Linked DNA regions of Homo sapiens: region 1 is linked to region 2. Evidence: fine-mapped expression QTL. A gene starts in region 2. The other region holds a variant in brackets. All regions are shown on one strand. Distances are between the middles of the regions. Region 1 overlaps ZMYND8 (zinc finger MYND-type containing 8). Region 2 holds the start of ZMYND8 (zinc finger MYND-type containing 8).

Evidence for each region. PIP is the estimated chance that this variant, and not a neighbour inherited with it, causes the effect. A credible set is the group of variants that fine-mapping cannot tell apart.
Region 1: its variant is the best candidate, but not a certain one, in a credible set for the expression of ZMYND8 in whole blood (INTERVAL, PIP 0.59).

What each region holds. Positions count from the first base shown.
Region 1 is chr20:47,214,701-47,225,046 of GRCh38, reverse strand. ZMYND8 (zinc finger MYND-type containing 8) reads left to right here. Exons shown (of 23, transcript NM_001281775.3): 19 at 491-730; 20 at 3,573-3,733; 21 at 4,723-4,789. Among named protein-coding and RNA genes, the nearest start is that of MIR3616, 53 kb to the right of the region's middle. The variant G/TG (reference allele first, on the strand shown) is at 5,524.
Region 2 is chr20:47,351,797-47,362,142 of GRCh38, reverse strand. It overlaps ZMYND8 (zinc finger MYND-type containing 8), which reads left to right and starts at 5,444. Exons shown (of 23, transcript NM_001281775.3): 1 at 5,444-5,486. The coding sequence starts at 5,473. It overlaps LOC101927377 (a long non-coding RNA gene), which reads right to left and starts at 9,582. Exons shown (of 2, transcript NR_134501.1): 1 at 9,403-9,582; 2 at 7,510-9,138. RefSeq lists enhancers at 1,064-1,358, 1,229-1,378, 2,724-3,018, 2,583-3,190, 3,191-3,798 and 8 more and cis regulatory regions at 966-1,621, 3,124-3,337.

The DNA.
Region 1 (10,346 bases), 140 kb after region 2:
GAAAGGGGTAGAATAGTAGTACTTACCCCGTAGGATTATTAGGATGAGGGTTATATGAGTTAATATTTATAAAGTTCTTAGAACAGTGCCTTCATGTAGTGGGTGCTGTATAGGTATTTGATTGATAGGGGGGAAAAGGCTTATGTTAATGAATAATAGGATAGAAAGTGAGTTTTGGTGGCAGTTGTTTCAAGGGTTACTTTGAGGAATTCCCAGAATGTAGTCTGGTGTGGAAAATCCTCTGGGGCTGCAGTTATGTCCATGCTGGGCACCTCATGTCCACTCTCAACAGGCAGCACCATCTGGTCACCATGATGAATGCCCTATTTACAGATGAAGACTCGGGCTAGGTTATTGCCCATGGGCACACAGCCAGGGCTTCTCCCAGCCAGGTCTTGCATCCACGTCTGCCTGAATCTGGGGGCAGGAATAACCCCACACCCCAGGCTGGGGTCAGGTGATGAGCGGTGTTCTTCCCCTCCTCCACCAGAGCTGACCATGGCGGAGATGCGGCAGAGCCTGGAGCAGGAGCGGGACCGGCTCATCGCCGAGGTGAAGAAGCAGCTGGAGTTGGAGAAGCAGCAGGCGGTGGATGAGACCAAGAAGAAGCAGTGGTGCGCCAACTGCAAGAAGGAGGCCATCTTTTACTGCTGTTGGAACACCAGCTACTGTGACTACCCCTGCCAGCAAGCCCACTGGCCTGAGCACATGAAGTCCTGCACCCAGTCAGGTAATGCCCTGTGGGGCTGCCTCCCGTCCTGGGCTGCAGTGGCTTGGCATTGGTCTCCCCTGTGGACTTCAGGGGTCTCAGGGCTAATTGTCAAGGGAGCTTGCCTGGCTTCTGGACACTTTCACTCAAAAACAATTGTGTCTTACACACAGGTGAGCAGTGTGCAGGCACATAGCTAAAACTTGAGCCATGGGCATTTTGAACCTTTGATCTTTGCAGAACCCTTGATCTCTTCTCAGGCCTAAAGTGTCAGTAGTACTGAAGTTGAGACACTGTGTTTTTTTTGGCAGTAATGGACTTGTGGCTTTAGATAATATGGATTCCCAATTTCTTTGTTAAGTAAAAAGTGTTAGTTTGGTACTAACCTATCTTTGACACTGCTGTAATATTTGTAATCACCCTTTCCAACATAGAACAAGCAGTCCCCAGGCCTAGAGCTTCCAGCAGGAAGCACTATCTAGTTAGAATTTATCCTTTTTTTTTTTTTTTTGAGACAGAGTTTCGCTCTTGTTGCCCAGGCTGGAGTGCAGTGGCGTGATCTCGGCTTAGTGCAACCTCTGCCTTCCGGGTTCAAGCGATTCTCCTGCCTCAGCCTCCCGAGTAGCTGGGATTACAGAAATATGCCACTATGCCCGGCTAATTTTTAGTATTTTTAGTAGAGATGGGGTTTCTCCATGTTGGTCAGGCTGGTCTTTAACTCCTGACCTCAGGTGATCCACCTACCTTGGCCTCCCAAAGTGCTGGGATTACAGGCGTGAGCCACAGCGCCTGGCATCAATAATATTTTATGAATTATTATTATTATTATTTTGAGACAGAGTTTTGCTCTTGTCCCCCAGGCTGGAGTGCAGTGACACGATCTCGGCTCACTGCAACCCTGCCTCCTGGCTTCCACTGATTCTCCTGCCTCAGCCTCCCAAGTGGCTGGTATTACAGGCACACATCACCATGCGCAGCTAATTTTTGTATTATTAGTAGAGACAGGGTTTCACCATGTTGGCCAGGCTGGTCTTGAACTCCTGACCTCAAGTGATCTGCCGGCCTCAGCCTCCCAAAGTACTGGGATTACAGGTGTGAGCCACCACGCCCAGCCTATAAGTTATTTTTTACCATTAGCTTTTATTTGTGGCAAATGATACTAGCTTTGTATGGTTGGAATTAAACACTTCCATTTTAAAGAATTTCAAGTGTCCCATAAATAATACAATAAAGTAGTATGTCTGCGGATTGGCAAAATTTGCAAAGGTGGTATGTAAATGACTCAAGTGTGAGAAGCTTGACCAGGGGTTGGTAAACTTTTTCTGTGAAGGGCGAGAGTGAATATTTTAGGCTTTGTACACCATGTGGTTTCTGTTGCTACTACTTAACTCTGCTGTTGCAGTGCAGAAGCAGTCTTAGATGATATGTAAATGGATGGACATAGATGATATATAAATGGATGGATGTGGCTGTCTGCCAATAAAACAGGCAGCACTAGCTTGCCAGCTCTTGCTCTAGACAAATCTGTTATTTTATTATTTTTTAAAAGGCAATATTGGAGAATACCTTGCCCTGTTCTTTAGTCTTTAGGGAGATGTCTTCTTTGTAGAGACTTTTGGTCTCTTACTGGAGTAAAGTCTCTTTGTGTTTTCCCTCCGTTCTGGAATGTGTCTGATGAGCCTTTTGCTGTTTTGCCAAGATGGCCAAAATGTCCTTCGGCTTTCCTTTTTTTGTGACATAATTACATCTGTTCTTCCTAAATTCCTCCCAGACGCGTTTTTCTTTTCCTTTTTTTTTTCGTTGAGACGGAGTCTCGCTCTTTCTCCCAGGCTGGAGTGCAACGGCGCGATCTCAGCTCACTGCAAGCTCCGCCTCCCGGGCTCATGCCATTCTCCTTCCTCAGCCTCCCTAGTAGCTGGGACTACAGGTGCCCGCCACCACGCCTGGCTAATTTTTTGTGTTTTTTAGTAGAGACAGGGTTTTACTGTGTTAGCCAGTATGGTCTTGATCTCCTGACCTCGTGATCTGCCCGCCTCAGCCTCCCAAAGTGCTGGGATTACAGGCATGAGCCGCCGCACCCGGCCCCAAACGCCCTGTTTTTCTATGTGTCCAAGTTTCTGCCATCTCCAGATTCTCTGGGCCTCTGATAGCATGTCGCCTTTCACGTGGTTTTCCTGTCCCACCTTAGAAGGAAGAAAGTCTCTGGGGCTAAAAATATAGGTCTCCACCTAGAAATGACTAAATAGAGTAACTAAATCAGCAGTTACAGGTTGGCTCTTGTTGATGGGCTTTATTTGTTCCAGGAATATACTTTCATCTCCAGAATGATTTAATAAAACTTGAATTGCTAACCATTAAAAATCAACATGTTGGCTAGGCACGGTGGCTCAAGCCTGTAATCCTAGCACTTTGGGAGGCCGAGGTGGGTGGATCACCTAAGGTCAGGAGTTCAATACCAGCTTGACCAACATGGTGAAACCCTGTCTCTACTAAAAATACAAAAAATTAGTCGGACATGGTGGTGTGCACCTGAGTCCCAGCTACTTGGTGGGCTGAGACAAGAGAATCACTTGAACCCAGGAGACAGAGGTTGCAGTGAGCTGAGATCGTGCCATTGCACTCCAGCCTGGCTGACAGAGCGAGACTCCATCTCAGCATGTTTATGTTAAAATTTGGAATTCTAAAGTTTGGAATTCCAGCTTCTGGAAAACTCTGGCAATCTGGCCCCCTTGAGCCTCCACTTTTATGCCCTGGGTAGGGCTGAGCCTTGGGTGCCACTGGGTGCAGGGCGGGGCTCCATGCATGTTTCAAAATCATCGTACTCTGTGTATATGTGGCGTCTCTCTCTCTCCTTTGTCCCCAGCTACTGCTCCTCAGCAGGAAGCGGATGCTGAGGTGAACACAGAAACACTAAATAAGTCCTCCCAGGGGAGCTCCTCGAGCACACAATCAGCACCTTCAGAAACGGCCAGCGCCTCCAAAGAGAAGGAGACGTCAGCTGAGAAAAGCAAGGAGAGTGGCTCGGTGAGGATCCCCCCATGCCTTTGGCTAGTGACATCTACCCTTTGTGCCAAGTGGACTTAGGACCCCCTGTCTGCCGCCCTGAAAGTTCCGTGTTGTGGGAGGCTTGTCCTAACAGTGTGCCGGCATTTCCAGTGGATGTGTGGGAACATGGAGCCTGGGCCGGCGTGTGTGGGACCTGGCAGCTGCTCCCCAGTACTCTCTGCTGGGGACCCTCAAAGTGTAGAATAGTGTTGCCCAGGAGAACTTTCTGCGATGATGGAAATGTTCTGTACTTCCCGTCCAGAATGGTAGCTGCTAGCTACATGCAGCTTTTGAGCACTTGAAATGCAGCTAGTGTGACCGAGGACCTGATTTTACAGTTTTATTTAATTTTAATTAATTGAGATTTCAGTAGCCACATGTGGCTAGTGGCTGCCCTATTGGGCCACGAAGGTTTCACCTCCTTGTTTGTTTGCCAGGGTGTGATGTATGTGACATTGATGGTATGCAAAGACTATTTTCATGAGTATATAGTTTTTTACATTTTTAGTCACTGTATATCTATTTCATTGCATATTAGGAAAAAGATAAATCGTTAGACTGTCAGTTAAAACATGTTGGTTTAACTGATAGTATTACCTAGTCAGAGGCTAGCATGAATTAAAAGCGGACTGACAGAATTTTGAAGTAATGTACTTTCTCCTTGGATATGGCAAAAATCTGGAGGGGGTTCTGTTAGTGAGTGGAGTTTAGGAAACAGTGAATGTTCTAGGGTACAGTGAGGGGCCACTCTGGTGCTGCGTTCCAGTCTGTTCAGTGTGGGAGATGGTACCTGGGGTTTGGCCACCTGGCCGCCCTGTGCCCATCACTCCCACCTGACCGTGCCAGGCAGAGGACACTGAGATGCTTTGGGGGCAGCGATGAGCACCCCCATGACTCCCTGGATTTCCCTGTGGGGGCGACAGTAGCCTCAGTGCCTTGAGTCCATCTTTTTCTTTTTGTATTTCTAGACCCTTGACCTTTCTGGCTCCAGAGAGACGCCCTCCTCCATTCTCTTAGGCTCCAACCAAGGCTCTGGTATGTTGCCCCCTGGTGGGCGAACGGTGCTTTCACATTTCAGATGGGCAGATGGGGAGCCATTTTGTCAGGGAGAATTTGAAGGGTTTATTCCAATGGTTTCCAAACGATTATGGATCCTTAGGGGTGCCTGGGGTGGGTCAGTGGGGGTGAGGGGGTAGCTGAGCATGTTAACTTTCAGGTACCTCTTCAAGCTGATCGGTATTACCTATTGTATTTACTGGGGATCCACATAAAACTCCATTTGGACAGAGGGTTCTGTTGCTGACCTGGGGTAGGGTAGAAGAAGTGCATTTGGATTGGGAAGTTTTTTTTTTCTCTCTCTCTCAGGGAAATGAGAACGGTAAATGACACTGTGTAAGATTTTATTCTGAGGTTCTGACACCTGCATATGGTGGATGAAGGCGCTCAAGCCTTTGAGAATTGAAGGCAGTGCTTAAGTGGATGATCTTTCTGTTAAATCCTTTCCTTTTGGAGAATAACCTGGCAGGCAGGTTTGGGGAAATTTCTGAGACTTGACATCTAGGTTTTTTCTTCTGTGGGGTTTGAGCTGTCTTCCTTCCTTAGCCCAAAGAATCTTTTTCCTGCACTTTCTTAAAGCAGTTTTGGGTCATTCCAGAAGGGTTCAGAGAAGGTGTCTTCCTGGTGGAAGACAGTTTTACTTCATTCAAGGTTTTTGCCTGGCACCACAGCTCCAGGACCTTTCTGCCTGATGATGATTTTTTTTTTTTTTT[G/TG]AGACAGTCTTGCCCTGTCGCCCAGGCTGGAGTGCAGTAGTGTGATCTCAGCTCACTGCAACCTCCGCCTCCCAGGCTCAAGTGATTCTCCTGCCTCAGCCTCCCAAGTAGCTGGGACTACAGGGACGCACCACCATGCCTGGCTAATTTTTTAAAAAAATTTTGGTAGGCCGGGCGCAGTGGCTCATGCCTGTAATCCCAGCACTTTGGGAGGCTGAGGTGGGCGGATCACAAGGTCAGGAGTTTGAGACCAGCCTGACCAACATGGTGAAACCCTGTCTCTACTAAAAGTACAAAAATTAGCTGGGCGTGGTGACATGCGCCTGTAATCCCAGCTACTTGGGAGGCTGAGGCAGGAGAATCGCTTGAACCCAGGAGGTGGAGGTTGCAGTGAGTCGAGATCGTGCCACTGCGCTCCAGCCTGGAAGACAGAGCGAGACTCTCTCTCAAAAAAAAAAAAAAAAAAAATTGTAGAAACGGGGTTTTGCCATGTTGGCCAGGTTGGTCTTGATCTCTTGACCTCAAGTGATCCTCCCGCCTCTGCCTCCGGAAGTGCTGGGATTACAGGCGTGAGCCACTGACGATTCTCTTGAGCTGAAAAGCAAACATTTCATTTCACTTCTGCATATTGAGTGCATGGAGGAAGAAGTGATGTCCATTGTTAGGGGCTGGGAACGGTTTCCCTAAGGGGCTAGGCCTTGAAAGTTGGATGGGATTTGGGGGCACAGTCAGAGGGAGTAATATGAGCTTGCTTTAGGAGGGAGGATATGAACTTGGCATTAAATATGACTGAACCACCTATTGAAAAAGCAACTCCCTCTTCACTTCCCCTTGTAACAGGCTCAGTTTAGTGCTAAGATGTCTTTAGCATCTCTCATATTTCCTGATTCTCTTTTTAACAAAGACTGAGCAGACTCTAGATTTTAGCCGCATGCTCCCCACCCTAGAACTTTTAATTTAAGGTTTTCATTACATTCATTTTTGGAGTTGCCCTTGATTTAACAGCAGATTTTATTGGTTTTGTGTTTTTTGTTGGTTAACAATAAAAGTTTAGTTATTTACCTAAGTTACATAAGTTTAAAATAAAAACATGAACTAAGCAATATGTAAGAGGACTATGGATGTGTCGAAATGGCACAAGTGGTGTGAGGAAGGTCCAAGTTAGGGAAACACCGTTTCAGACAGAGGGGTGCTGTTAGGGTTTTGGAGCCTCAAAGTGGCTTGATTGAAATGGCATCTGAGAAGATGAATGATGCCGTGGTAGGATGAATCTGGCAGGAGTCTGTTGGCATCAGGAGGGTGGCATACAGGAAGGTAGTTGGGAGAGGCATCGTATTCCATTCTGAGCTGGAGGAGTATTACCTAGACCAGGGTCAAGAAACTTTTTCCATAGAGGGCCATTTAGTAAGTATTTTAGGTTTTGCAGGCCGCATGGTTCCTGTCATAGCTGCTCACCCTGCCGTTGTAGTGTGAAAGTAGACATAGATAATATGTAAACAAACGTGTGCCTTGTGCCAATGAAACTTGAATTGCAAAAACAGGCATTGAGCTGGCCATAGTTTGCTGACTCCTGACCTGAGGCACACTGGCCCAGGGAGTGGAAGGGAGAGGAGGCAAGAAGCCCCAGTAAATGGTGGGGGGAAGAGGGGGGCGAGCAGGGGGAGGAAGGGGCAGTTTTTCTGAATAAGGCAGATAAATGCCTATCTTCGTGGAGTTTCAAAGGAAGTCAGAAGAGCAGCTATTGGTGATACTGAAGAGCATGAACACCTTATCATGTTTTTCCCCAATGTCTGTAAGAGCATAGTTAGTATTTCCATTATACAGATGAGCAAGTTGAGGTCCAGAGACATTAACTCAGATGCCCAGGTAACTCAATGAGTAATTATGAGAGCCAAGACTTCAGTTCAGATCTCTCCAGACTCATGCTTTGAAAGGTGGGTGGGTGGGATTTGGGGGCACAGTCAGAGGGAGTAACGTGAGCTCACTTTAGGAAGGATACGAACTTGGCATTAAATATGACGGAAGCACCTACTGAGAAAGCAACTCCCTCTTCACTTCCCCTTCGAACAGGCTTAGTTTGATACTGAGATGTCTTTAGCATCTCTCATATTTCTTGATTCTCTTTTTAACAAGGACTGAGCTTTGCAACCATATGCAACCAATTGAGCTTTGCAATCCAGACTCATGCTTGCAACCATATGTCAGGTATACTTAGGTGGACACCTATAAAATTGTTGTAACTCAAAAATGGCTGAGTAATGGCACTTGTGCGTGGCTCTGCTAATAAGGCACTGATCTCTAGGAAACGTCAGCGTGCAGATGTGGCCTTTTTTTCCTCACCCAATTCTACTAACTGTCTTGTTTCTATACCTCCCTCCTTCCTACCTCCTTACCCAGCTTAATTTCCATGGAGTACTGTTGCTAATACAACCCAGTCTCCCAGGCCCTTCCTGTTTTCCTAGCATGTCCATTTGGCAAAACCTCACCTTGGATGAACCCCAGCTTTCCGCTTTTGATTTACCTGCACCTGAGCCTCAGTGCTTAACTGGAGAATGTTACACAAGAACACAAACTCCTCTCATCACACACGCAAATCTGGGTCACTAACCTCAGAAGCAGATATTCTCTTCTGCCGGATCGTCTTCCCAATATGTTTTTCTTTTATTAATACTTTTTGTCCCCAGAGACCTGTGTTCTTTTTTTATTCTACTTTTTTGAGACAGAGTCTTTGCTCTGTCGCCCAGGCTGGAGTGCAGTGGCATGATCTCGGCTCACTGCAACCTCTGCCTCCTGGGTTCAAGTGATTCTCCTGCCTCAGCCTCCCGAGTAGCTGGGATTATAGGTGTGCACCACCACACCCAGCTAATTTTGTATTTTTAGTAGAGATGGGGTTTCACCATGTTGGCCAGGCTGGTCTTGAACCCCTGACCTCAGGTGATTTCACGTGCCTTGGCCTCCCAAAGTGCTGGGATTACAAGCTTGAGCCACTACGCCCAGCCCGGCCCTTTTTTTTTTTTTTTTTTTTTTTGAGACAGAGTCTTCGCTCTGTTGTCCAGACTGGAGTGCAGTTGCGTGATCTTGGCTCACTACAACCTTTGCCTCCTCAATTCAGGTGATTCTCCTGCCTCAGCCTCCTGAGTAGCTGGGATTACAGGTGTGCATCACCATGCCCAACTAATTTTTTGTATTTTTAATAGAGACAAGGTTTCACTGTGTTGGCCAGGCTGGTCTTGAACTCCTGACCTCAAGTGATTCACCCACCTTGGCTTCCCAAAGTGCTGGATTACAGGCATGAGCCACCGTGCCTGGCCAGAGGCCTGTGTTGTGACCCAAGTTTTTTGTTTTTATCAGGATTCCATCGTCCATGATGGCTATTTCTCAAGTTCTCTGCTCTGTTTTGGACCTCCCTGCATCTCTCCCTGCGTCACCATCCCTGGGCGCTCAGGGCTGCTCCTCTGCCCTCTGCAGGGCCTCCGTGGTGTGCTCTGTCCTTCCCTCCTGCCGTTCAAAGGCATCTGCATCCTTTGTTGTAGCCAGATTTCTCACTCTGTATTGCTTTTCTTCCTAGGCACTTAAATATCCTCATCTATCTCCAAGTGCCTTCCTTGACACCTTGCATCTCCAATAGAACGTTCTGTGACAATGGCCATGTTCTTATATTTGCACTGTCCACTATGGTAGCCACTAGCCACGTGTCGCTGCTGAAGCCTTGAACTGTGGCTAGTGCGACTGAGGAATGGAATTTAACATTGTATCTTATTGTAGTGGTTACCATATTGAATGGCATAGCTTAAGACCTGTCCTGTCTCCTTCCTCAACCCAGTTAGTTAGATGTCTCTTCAAGGGTTGTTATTCTAGAGCTAGGGCCCACCTGTAGTCCCAGCTACTTGGAGAGGCTGAGTCAGGGGGGTTACTTGAGCCTAGGAGTTTTGAGACTGCAGTGAGTGCCTGTGAATAGCCACTGCACTCCAGCTGGGCAACAGAGTGAGACCTCATATTTAAAAAAAAAAAAAAAAGTTGTTTCATTTGTCTCCATTTCCCTTTCTTTACACACTCCGCTGCTGCTATGATACAGTTTCTATTCTGATACTCCACCATCCCCCTAAGCCATTAACAGTCATGGACATTTATTATTATTATTATTAGTATTTGAGATGGAGTCTTGCACTGTTGCCCAGGCTGGAGTGCAGTGGTGCAATCTTGGCTCACTGCAACCTCTGCTTCCCAGGTTCAAGTGATTCTCCTGCCTCAGCCTCCTGAGCAGCTGAGATTACAGGAATACACCACCACGCCCAGCTAATTTTTTGTATTTTATTAGAGATGGGGTTTCACCGTGTTGCCCAGGTTGGTCTCGAACTCCTGAGCTCAGGCAATCCACCTGCCTCGGCCTCCCAGACTGCTTGGATTACAGGCGTGAGCCACCATGCCTGGCCGACATTTTTAATTCTAAATGTTGTTTTGAAACCTAAGAGACAGGATCTTGCCTTGTTGCCGAGGCTGGCCTTGAACTTGGCCTGAGCTCAAGCCATTCTCCCACTTCAGCCTCTTGAGTAGCTGGGATCATAGGCATGTGCCACCGTGGTCAGCAGCAGAGACTTTTTTCTTAAAAGACGACCAGATTGGCTAGAATCATGGTATCTTCATGTCAGAAAGGGCCTCCTCTCCAGGGTTTGGATAAAGATTGAGGTGCACCCGGGGCTACACTAAAAGAGATTTAGCCCCGCATTTAGGTCAGGCGTGGTGGCTCATGCCTATAATCCCAACACCTTGAGAGGCCAAGGTGGGTGGATCATTTGAGGTCAGGAGTTCAAGACCAGCCTGAC
Region 2 (10,346 bases):
AAAATAAAATAAAATAAATAAGTGGCTGGGCATGGTGGCTCACGCCTGTAATCCCAGCACTTTGGGAGGCCAAGGCAGGCGGATCACGAGGTCAGGAGATCGAGACCATCCTGGACAACATGGTGAAACCCCCGTCTCTACTAAAGACACAAAATATTAGCTGGGTGTGGTGGCATGTGCCTGTAATCCCAGCTCCTCAGGAGGCTGAGGCAGGAGAATTGCACGATCCTGGGATACGGAGGTTGCAGTGAGCTGAGATTGTGCCACTGCACTCTAGCCTGGGCGACAGAGTGAGACTTTGTCTCAAAAAAAAAAAAAAAAAAAGGGAGAGAAAAAAAAATAAAAGGATCACTGGCAGCCTGGGTGGTACAGTGTGTGTATGTGTGTGTGAGTGCATGTGTACAAGCGTTTGCAAGGGCGGAAGCAGAGAGCTCAGGTAAGATTCTTGCAACCATCCGGATGGGAGATGGTGTTCTACTGAGCTCTAATATATGTCAAGTGCTGTGTTCAACTCTTGAGGGCATGATGGTGAAGAATTCAGACAAGGTCCTTCCTTGCCTCGTGAAGTGCTCAGCCTGGTGCACAGTTTCTCAGCCTCTGCACTATTGACATTTGAGGCTGGCTAATTCTCCGCTGGGGGGTCTTGTCCTATGTGTTGTAGGATGTTTAGCAGCACTAGATGCCAGTAGCACTCCCCACTTCCCTGAAAGATCTTACAACCCAAAATGGAGACAACCCAAAATGTCCCTAGGCATTGCTAAATGTCCCCTTGCGGGGGCAAAACCACCGGTCCAGTGGGAGGGAGAAACAGAGCGAACGAATCTATAGTCTTCTGCCCATAAAAGTAATTGCTAGGAAGAAAAAAGAGTAGGGCCTGAGTTTTCCTGCTTTTCATTTTCCTTCTGCTCCTGCATCCCTTGCTCGGCGCCCCACCCGCGCTGTGGCCATCTGCCTGATGAGGGGCGACCATCCACCCCCTGCCCTTTCCACTAGCCCTTTTTGTTTTCCCTCCCGCCGTTTGCCTAATCCTGCCAGTCCCTCCTAGAAAGAGGTAAAAAAACAAAACAAAACCAAAAAACCCCACACCCCTCTCCTAGTAGGCATCTTCTCCAAGGGAGGGAGGCTCCTATCTGCCTCTTTGTGGCTGTAACATGACACAGTCAGCTCCGGGCTCTGAAGGTGAGCCCTTCTGTCACCGTGCCCGAAGTTGGCCTCGGTTCTAATTGGCCAGAAAGGAACAAAACAAAACAAGATATTTAAAACACTTCCCTGACTCAATCCTGTCCATTTCGCGTAACGGTCAGAGAGGCCTGCTGTAGCTGGAGGCCGATAACTGCAAGTGTGCTTATTTTTGTAGGCAGCCGAACAGGCTATCTCGGGATGCAGCTTGTGGGGCCGCTCCTGCTGCTGCTCGCCTGGCTGGAGGCCAGCGGAACGGGCGAGCCATTTCAGGGAGGCCAGGCCTCAGCTCGTAAGGTGCTGGGGGAAGGGAGCTGGGGCCAGCCTTTCCTCTCCCTCGAGACCAGTGTTGTTACTGTGACACTCTGCCTGGCTCCCCACAGCCTGATTCTGTACCCCAATCCTCTCTGTACCCTGGGAATATTAAGAGAGACACGTTTTAATCTATTTTTATTAGCTCATTGCTTATTAATATCACCAAAGAACCTGCTTGTTTAGGCCTGTGCTGGCTTTTCTAGCCAGAGGCAGAATGATTGGACTGTTTTCTTCCCTTTCCTTAAAGGGCTTAAAGCCAGGGTTTCCCAACCTTGGACATTTTGGATCAGATACTTCCTTGTTGTGGCGGGGCTGGTCTTGTGTACTTATAGGATGTTTTGCATCATCCTTGGCCTCTACCCACTGGATACCGGTAATACAACCTCCCTAACTGTGACAACCCACACGTCTCCAAGCATTGCCAAATGCCCCCTGAAGGGCAAATCCCCCCATGGTTGAACCACTGGTTTCAGGGAATATAAAAGCCTAATTTTAGAGATGGCAAAGTGTTCCCCCTTGACATCTTGCATCTTGCTGGAGGTTGGGAGGGAGAGGGTCGCTTCCTCTGGGCCTCAATCTGTAATGAGGGGCATTTGAATGAGTCTAATCTAAAAGTTTCCTTCAGCGCCATCATTCAATACTGAAAACCCACCTCAAAAGGGTGGGTCTTCAGGTTGCAGCATTGAGTTGTGATGATGCCACTGCACTCAAGCCTGGGCGACAGAGCGAGACACTGTATCAAAAAACAAAAAAGCAAAAAACTGGTCTACCTCCTAAAAGAAAACACAGATTATGCAGTTGCTGTTCGTAGGTTTCAGCCTCATTGTTTCTGCTGTGCTTGGTTCGGCTTTGCTTTTGCTTCTTTCTTTAGAGCCAGGAGAAGGTACAGAGTTTAGGGATGTGAAGTGCTAACGGGGTGGACATCTGATCTCTGGCACTTCCCAGCTGTGTGACCTTGGGCAGCTCACTTCACCTCTCTGGGCTTAGTTCCAGGTTTCTAACAATGCCACCTACTTCAGGAATCAGTCTATGTAAAGCACTAATTTAGAAGTAACTGCTGGGATACTCACTGCAGTGGGGCTTTAAGAGGAGCTGCTGAATGGATTTCTAGATTGAGACCTGCAACATTTGGTTTTATTTCCTGCTTATCAGCCACATTCCATGAAGCCCAGGACCAGCCCTTCGTAGGCCTGCCCCAGGCTTTCTTTTCAATCTGTGTTCCTCCCAGGATTCCATCTGCCACCATACTTTTGTGTCTGTCCCCAGCCGAATTGCTGTTTTCCAGATAACCTCAGACCTACCCGAATGCCAACAGCATTCCTCAAACAGAGCAGAGCTGCCAGAATAAGCCAGCAGCTTCCTGCTCTTTGCCCCAGAAAACATTTCAAGTGATCAAGTGATCAGAGAGAGGGAGGGAGGCGGGGAGGATGCTGTAGCTGCTTATGCAACAAGCTTTAATCCCAGGTTAAAATCCACCACGCACACCAGCGGCATATTTTATTTCCTCATTGGTTCGTGGACTTAGCTGCATGGGAGATCTGCCACCAACCCCACAGTCCTGTTTGTTCCCCTCAAAGCAGCACCCGCAGAAACAAACAGCATTCCATATGGGATGGCGGTGGAGGGCCGCTGCCCACACAGCTAGGAGGGTGAGCACGCACTGCTTCACTGTGGCCTCCACCTCTCGCCTCCTCCCATTTAGTCTCCCCATGCAGCTTTCTACCTCCAGGAAGAGCAGGCCCCTCCCTTTTGGTGAGGCCCAGGCCTGCTGTCCTGAGCCCTGGAGCTTTGTCAGGTTGGGTGGCCATGGAGCTGTCCCTCCCTGCAGCTTGGCCTCAGCAGCCTAAAACAGTAACAACAGCAACATCCTGTCCGTTTTTATAAAGCCTGGGTCCTGCCCTGCCGTACAGTGAGTTTCGATTCCCAGCTCGTTCCTGAGCCTGTTTGATATGAGATTCCCGGCCAGGAAGAATTTATGTACAAGCAGTGGGCATCTGTTGTCCATGTGGGGGTTGGGGGGGGGCAGGGAAAGCAAGCCATCAGCTCTTCGTTTTCTTTGTGGGAACCGTGTGGGACAAGAAAGCCCACAAGTCCTAATTTTAGGAGGAGAGGGGAGACTTTATTGCTCCGGAGTTATGCCTCCTGGCATATGGCTGCGTTAACTCTGGACGCTTTCTCCAGCCTCTAAAGAATGGTGTTTATTTAGCTTCTGTGGTTCCAGGTTGCTGTTTTAAAAAATCCTGTTAATTAAGCACCTTGTCATTTAAAATGCCGAAGAAGGAAAGAGAGCGAGAAAGCTGGGGACATTTTACGGTCCTTTTCTATCTCTGGGTACAGACCAACTGCGAAGGCAGCTTTAGGGAGGAGACCAGCAAAGACCTCCTAACGCAATTGAAGTGGGTAGAATTGTAAGCAGCTCTGAACAACCAGTTAATATTTTACTGGGGAGCGGTGCCAGAGATGGGGGGGTGGGGGGGCTGCCAAATGGAGGGCTGTGTGTGAAATCGCTGCTCCATCTGCCTTGGGGGACGAAAAGAAGCCGTTCTCTGTGCAAATAAATGGAAGCAAGAATCCTTAGGAAGCCCAGGGGATTTGTCTGCCCACCGAGGAGGGCCCAACTCCCCCAGGCACACACATACAGGGATGATTGTGGCAGGAAGGGCTGACCTACGGGGGTAGGCCTGACGCATAATGGGGGCTCTTGTTTCCGGGCTGAGCGTGCCATCTTTCTGTCTCCCTCTGGATTGAAATGGCTTCTCAGCCCGAGAGGCACTGCCTGTGCCCTGGATTCACAAGGTACACGCCTCCCTGGGAAGCAAAGGCTGAGAGACAGCGGCTCTCTCTCTCTCTTTCTGCATCTGCCGGGAGAGCTGCAGCTGGTATTTTTCCACAGGCCTTCGCTGCGATCTCAAGGCCTAGTTTTTCCCAGCCAGGCCCCGAGTCCGAGAGAGGGTTAACAGGCAGGAAGCCGAAGGCATCGCAGGCTAATACGGAAGTCAGATTTGTGTTTAACTGACAGGTTTAGCAGGTCTCGGCCGCGGGGGAGGGGCCGGGAGGGAAGGGAAGTTTGTAGATCCAGGCATGTGGCCTGCGAGGAGGGCTTTGGGTTTTTCTTAGGGTAAGGACCGAGAGGGGTCCCCCTTGGCATCGTGGCAGGGCGACAGGAACCCACGTTGATTTTGCCTGCAGGACTGGCTAAGCAGGGCGCGAGAGGCCCACGGCTCCCTGGCCTGCCTTGCAAGGAGGCATGGGGACAATGACTATGCAAACTTGACCACTCTGCTCCCCTCCTCCCCTCAGCAGCTACTCCTCGCTCCTCTGAGAAGCCAGGGCTGCTCTCTGCTGATTTTTCGGGGCTCCCCCGGGCTGCCTGCTTCCCCCAGCTTCTCAGAGGCCTGCCTCAAGCCCCTTTTTCTGGCCCCTTGGCTGTTTCCCCGGGACTCCCCACTCCCCAGCTTCCCCTTCCCCTTGGAGAGCCACCCTGCTGGACTGTTCTAGAAAAAGGCTGGCCTTCCTCCCTGGACAAGGGCCGTTTCTCTGGGGGCAGGTGAGGGTGAGCCGTTCCAGCCCACTCCAAGAAACTCCCTTCCCAGGGACCTCCGGGCCTCAGGCTTTCCTGGAGCAGGTCAGGCTGGCTGCCCTGGCTGGCCCGTGCCGGGAAATCTAGCCAGGGTGCAGGAGAAGTGCGTGTGGGGGCCCCTTTCCCAAGTTTTTCTTGCTGCAAAAGGCCTAGCTTAGCCTGTCTTTTTCTATGCACAGGATGGCTCTTGCTCACCCGAGCCTCACAAAGATAATCGCTCAGGAAGTGTTTCAGCCAATCCGGGGCGGCTTTACACTCCGATTTGCCGGGGCAGCCAATCGGGGATGAGCTTTTATTAGGCGGCCAGATCATCAGCCGAAGTGCCAAACCCTTTTTCTGTGAGAACTAGGAGCCTGTCCTCCATGTTTTATAAGTATTGACATTACACAGTGTTAACAATGCATCCACAGAGGTAAGCTCGACTTTTTAACCATCTTTTTTCCCCCTCCCTCTGAGACATCCGAATTGTGGGCGAGCAGTGTGATTTCTCTGTGGCTGGCCGTGCCACACTCACCCCCAGAGCACTTATGTTAACTTGGAACTGTTTAGAGAGAATTTTTTTGCTTTCTTGGGTCACATGGCTCAGTAGCCATTAGCCATAGCTTGATTTTGCAAACTGGCAAGGGCCTGGCACACCTTTCCTTCCACCAGGGCATGGTGTTTCTGGAAGAGTTTGAAGCTAGATCCTGGTATGCCAAAAAAGAAGCTTTTTTTTTTCCTTCTTTTTTTTTTTTTCTTTCCCTCTTCCCTCTCTCTTCCCCTCTCTCTCTCTCTGAGCAGTTCCCCCCCTCCCACCCCTGCACTATTGTCTTCTCTTTTGCCACATGCCCTGCTGGGGGAAGAAAATGGAAGGTAAGCAAACAGGCTCCTCTCCAAGGAGAGCTCATGGCAGACAGCAGAGCAGGCAAGTTTGCCTCTCCAAAGAGGTTCTGGGAAGGCTGGATAAGTTTTGACAAGAGAGGAGCGTGTTTGCAAAAGAATTGTGCCCTCAGCAGAGCAGTGCTAAGGAGAGTCTAGCTCCTGGGGCCTAGGTGGGTGGTGGTGTCTGTACACGGTCTTCTCTTATTCTACAGAGCTTCTGCACTTGAAACTACATTGTTCAGCCTGTTTTCCTGACTTAGGTTGCTACAGAGTGTTCTGCAAGCCAGCCTACAGCCAGCAAATGTTTCTGAAAGTGTTTTCTAGGCTTTGGAGGAAGTTTTTTGGAGTAGGGATGGGGACTGGGGGGTGGGGGGAGAGATCTTGGACAACATCCTGCAAAAAAAAAAAAAAAAAAAAATCTGCAAGGATTCTGAATCCCTTAGCTTTCTACTCTTGCATGATTTTCAAGGAACTAATGTTACCTTTTATCCTTGTTTTCATTTTCCTGTCCCTTTTATACATTGTATCCTCCTCTCTTCTCCTGTGTCATGGAGTGTAGAGGAAATAAAATCATGTCTGTGGCTCATGACAGCATTCCATATTCAGTTGTTGGGTTGTGTTGTTGTTGTTGTGTGTGTTTTTAATAATACCATGTAACTGTTTAAAAAAATTTCCTTTTTGATCAAGTCCCAAATCTGCCAGCCTGTTCTCTCTTCCTAACTGTGGAAAAATGAGACGGTTGCTTGAACATTTGTTGGGTAAGTAAAGCAATCCATTTCCTCTGTGACCATGTTTGAAGAGTTTTGCGAACATTTGGGGTCTGTTTGTAATAGTGGGTCTTGGCTACAGGAGTTGGGGGCTTCATTAGCAGGAACAAAATAAGGGCTTTTTAAAGAGTGTCTTGATTTTAGGTGACTGTTTGAATCCACTGTTTTTCCTGATAACCTGCAGCTAGGATTGAAGATTATACTTCCTGTTTACCCTGAGTCAGGGGAGAAATGTTCAGTTCATTGTGACTTGACTCTAGACCTTTAATGGGGTTTGTTTGGATATTCAAACTGTGAGTAGGTGATGTGCTTGTGAAATGTCATGAAACTGCTTGTTCTTAGAGGTGCAGAGCCCTAAAAACATTGGTGGTGTAGAAGCTGGTGGTGGTGGTGGTATGTGTGTGTTGGGGGGGTGGTGTCAGTGTGCTCATGTTTTAGGACTTATGTATAGTGCAAAATCTCATCTACCACCAGACTGGGTTTGATTCAGGACTCACTGACCAACACATTTTGGCCTTTTTTCAGGTCTCCTCCACACATCTGTATGCATGCTGGCCCCACATAAGATTTCTCACTTTTTACATTTCCCTTGACCACTTAAGGCTGCAGCTAGAAGTTAAGTGGGAAAAGTAGAGTCTTGTTTAGCAGTACCTTCAGAATTTCCCTAGAAGTTCAGTACATAAATTTTCAGCTTGGAGACCAATCCGACATGACCGTAAATGCAGGAAATATATTCAATTGCTGTGTTATGTCAACTTTATGGAGTCAGTAATCTTTTTTCTTTCAAATGAGTGTCCAGTAGCCCACTTTCTGACACCGAATTGGAAAAAGGCTCATTTAATCAGCAGAAACGTACCACATTCTAAGTTGAGAAAAGTCTGTGCAAGGCAGGCCAGCTTAGCTTCTTAGAGTAAAACTGCAGGCAGTTAATGATGTTATATACTTAAAACTGAACAGTGCCACTGCCCCAAACAAGTAAGTTCAGACACTCAGCTATTTTCTTTGTTCTTATCTCCTTGCTGTAAATGGAAATTACATATCGAGGTTCTTGTGGCCTCCCTAGAAGCAATATCTAATCATAAGACTCCTGGTTTGGTGCCTTCAACGTTTGCATAATACTGTGTTTGTTGGGCTGGAAGGGAACTTAAGGGCAAGGCATTTGTCCTCTAAAAGCTTGCATTAAAATGGCTCCCACAGGTTTGGAGAGCCAAGATCTGTTTTCAAATGTACAGCCCCCAGCAAGTTCCCAACCCTGGACCAAGCTAGCCACTTTTCCTCTGGTACTGTGACCCCTACCAAGCATGAGTCTGTAAAAAGTTAATTGCTTTCAAAGTAGCATTATTTTCCAGTTTCAGGAAAGGGGGAAAAAAATAAATGTCTGCATTGCAGCAGGACTAGGTAGGGACGGCAGTACTGGCTCCCAGAGCAGCCCAATGGGGTTCTTCTACTCTAGCTTTTAAACCAATAGACTTGGAGGAAAGGTTAAAGATTGACAATTGCAGTGGCCGAACTAAGAACGGGCCTTCTGGAAATTTCTACCATCTTTGTTCCTTTTAGGAAAAGCAGATCTGCCAAGCAGAAGCGTCTCCTACCTTCCATTCCTAGGTCATCTCCCTTCCCTGCTTCCCCCCAACCCCCCTTCTTTTTCTCATCAAGGTAGAATGTTCTCTCTGCCACGTTTGTAAATTGCAGAAGGAGGAACAGAATGTTGGGCTGTTTTCCTTTTTCCTTCTGCCTCCTCAGTCCCCAAAGAGGATACACAGCTGCAAGGAGCAAACACAGACACACTGAAGCTTTTGATTCCTCTCCTTTTTTTTCCTTCAAGACCCTCCAGGATGGATTCACTTTCTGCTTTGGGAAATTAAGTGGCATTCACGTGGGGGAGGGGGAGTAACTGCTTTTATTAGCTCCAGAAAATGGTCAGTGTTCAGTCTGTAACTAGGAATTAATTATATATAATCACTCAGTAAACTTTCTACAGAGTTTTTCTAATTGCTGAGCCTGATCATAGTTAGCCCGTTGGCGCCAAGTCCAGTTACTTTTATAATTAACAGCTCAAAGATTTGAGTCAGAAAGAAACAATTGGGGGCCTCTTGGATTATAAATTAGGGATGAAAACAATAGCTTTTTTTCCTTTCTTTCTTGTCATCCCTTTTATTTTCAACAAAACATTTCCCCTTTTCTTTCCCTGGGAGAACCAGTGGGGAGACTGCATCAGGTCTTAAATAGGATGAGGGGGGAGACACTTTTTAGGAAGTGGGGTGACAGTAACCTAGAAAACCCTGGAGGCAAAGGTAGGTTTTTAAAAGTCCAGCCACTTGCAACGCGTGATGTCTTTGTTTCTTTTGCCCTCTTTCCCCTTCTCTCTCCTGTGGCAGAGGCAGCAGACATTTGTCAGCCTGGGAACCCTCAATCTGGCTTTGCCTCTGGTTGACTCTGGAAAGAAAGATACATTCAAAGGGGCCTTCGCTACTGCACAGCAGAGATTTAAAAAGGGAATATGTTTCAGAACCCTTTGGTTACTCTTAAAATGCAAGATCTGAGCAAGGGTTCACCCTTGGCTTCAGGTTGCTAAGGTTATGGTCACCCTCCCCGCTACTTCCCACTCTCCTTGCAGACAAACAAACAGGCAGTGGCCATGCCAGCTCTGCAGCCAGTGTGCTGCCAGCCTGTCCCCCCCATCCCGATTACCTTACCTACCGGCCGGCGGGGGCCAGTGGCCCGTCCTTGCCCTGGCATGGCCTTGGGCACTGTGCCCTCCTTTCTCCCCTGGAGCTAAAAAGCAGTCACCTTGAAACTCCTCACTCCCAGCACCAGAGGAGTTCTGAGGCCAATGCTCAGACCTGTAACAGTAAATGACGTTATCCACTCAGGCTGTTAGTTCGGCCTCTGAAAGCGGGTTTTGCAAAACCCATTGTTAATTCTCAGGCTCTGTTGGGGGTGGTCAGAAATCTAATTTGTGAGTATCCTGTGCATTGGATAAGGGAATGTTTTCCTTGTGTTTCTCCTCTGCAGACTCGGATTGTCTTTCCTTGATGTTAACTGTCTTAGGACTGGCTGCTTCAGAGGGCTGGGTATTTGGTGGCTGTTTGCAGGCTTATAAACAGCCTTTTTATTTTACCTTTGCCGTAGACTGAGGTGCAGCCCTTTAGCTTGGCTTTTCAGATGCCTGCTGTCCTTGAAGCACTTTCATTTTACCTAGCGCCTTTTTGGTATGGATGCAAAGCTGGTTTCTAATAGACTGAGAAGAGAAGGGGGACCGGGCTTCCTCCTTGCCTTCCCCCAGGCTGCTCCCTGGGAACATTTTTGTGTTTGCACAGACACCTGTCCGTCTGCAGTTTGTGCCACGGGGCTGCACGATTCCTAACCTTCTACCCACCTAATTTGAGGGCAAGGGGGCCTCATCACAGAGCCTCATGTTGAAGGCTCAGGATCTACAAGAGAAGGCTTTTCCTTAGGAACCTGTGACTTCACAAACTCTCCCTGTCATTGCAGAGTTTTTTTTAAGCTTCTAAACGTTGGGTTGTTGGTGTCCTTTGGTTCAGCTTTTCCTAGTTCTGGTATTTAGGAAGGTGGCTTTGAAACTCGCAGGGCTGCTTAAACAAGAGCTACAGCTATTGAACAAACTGCTACCATTTTAGCTT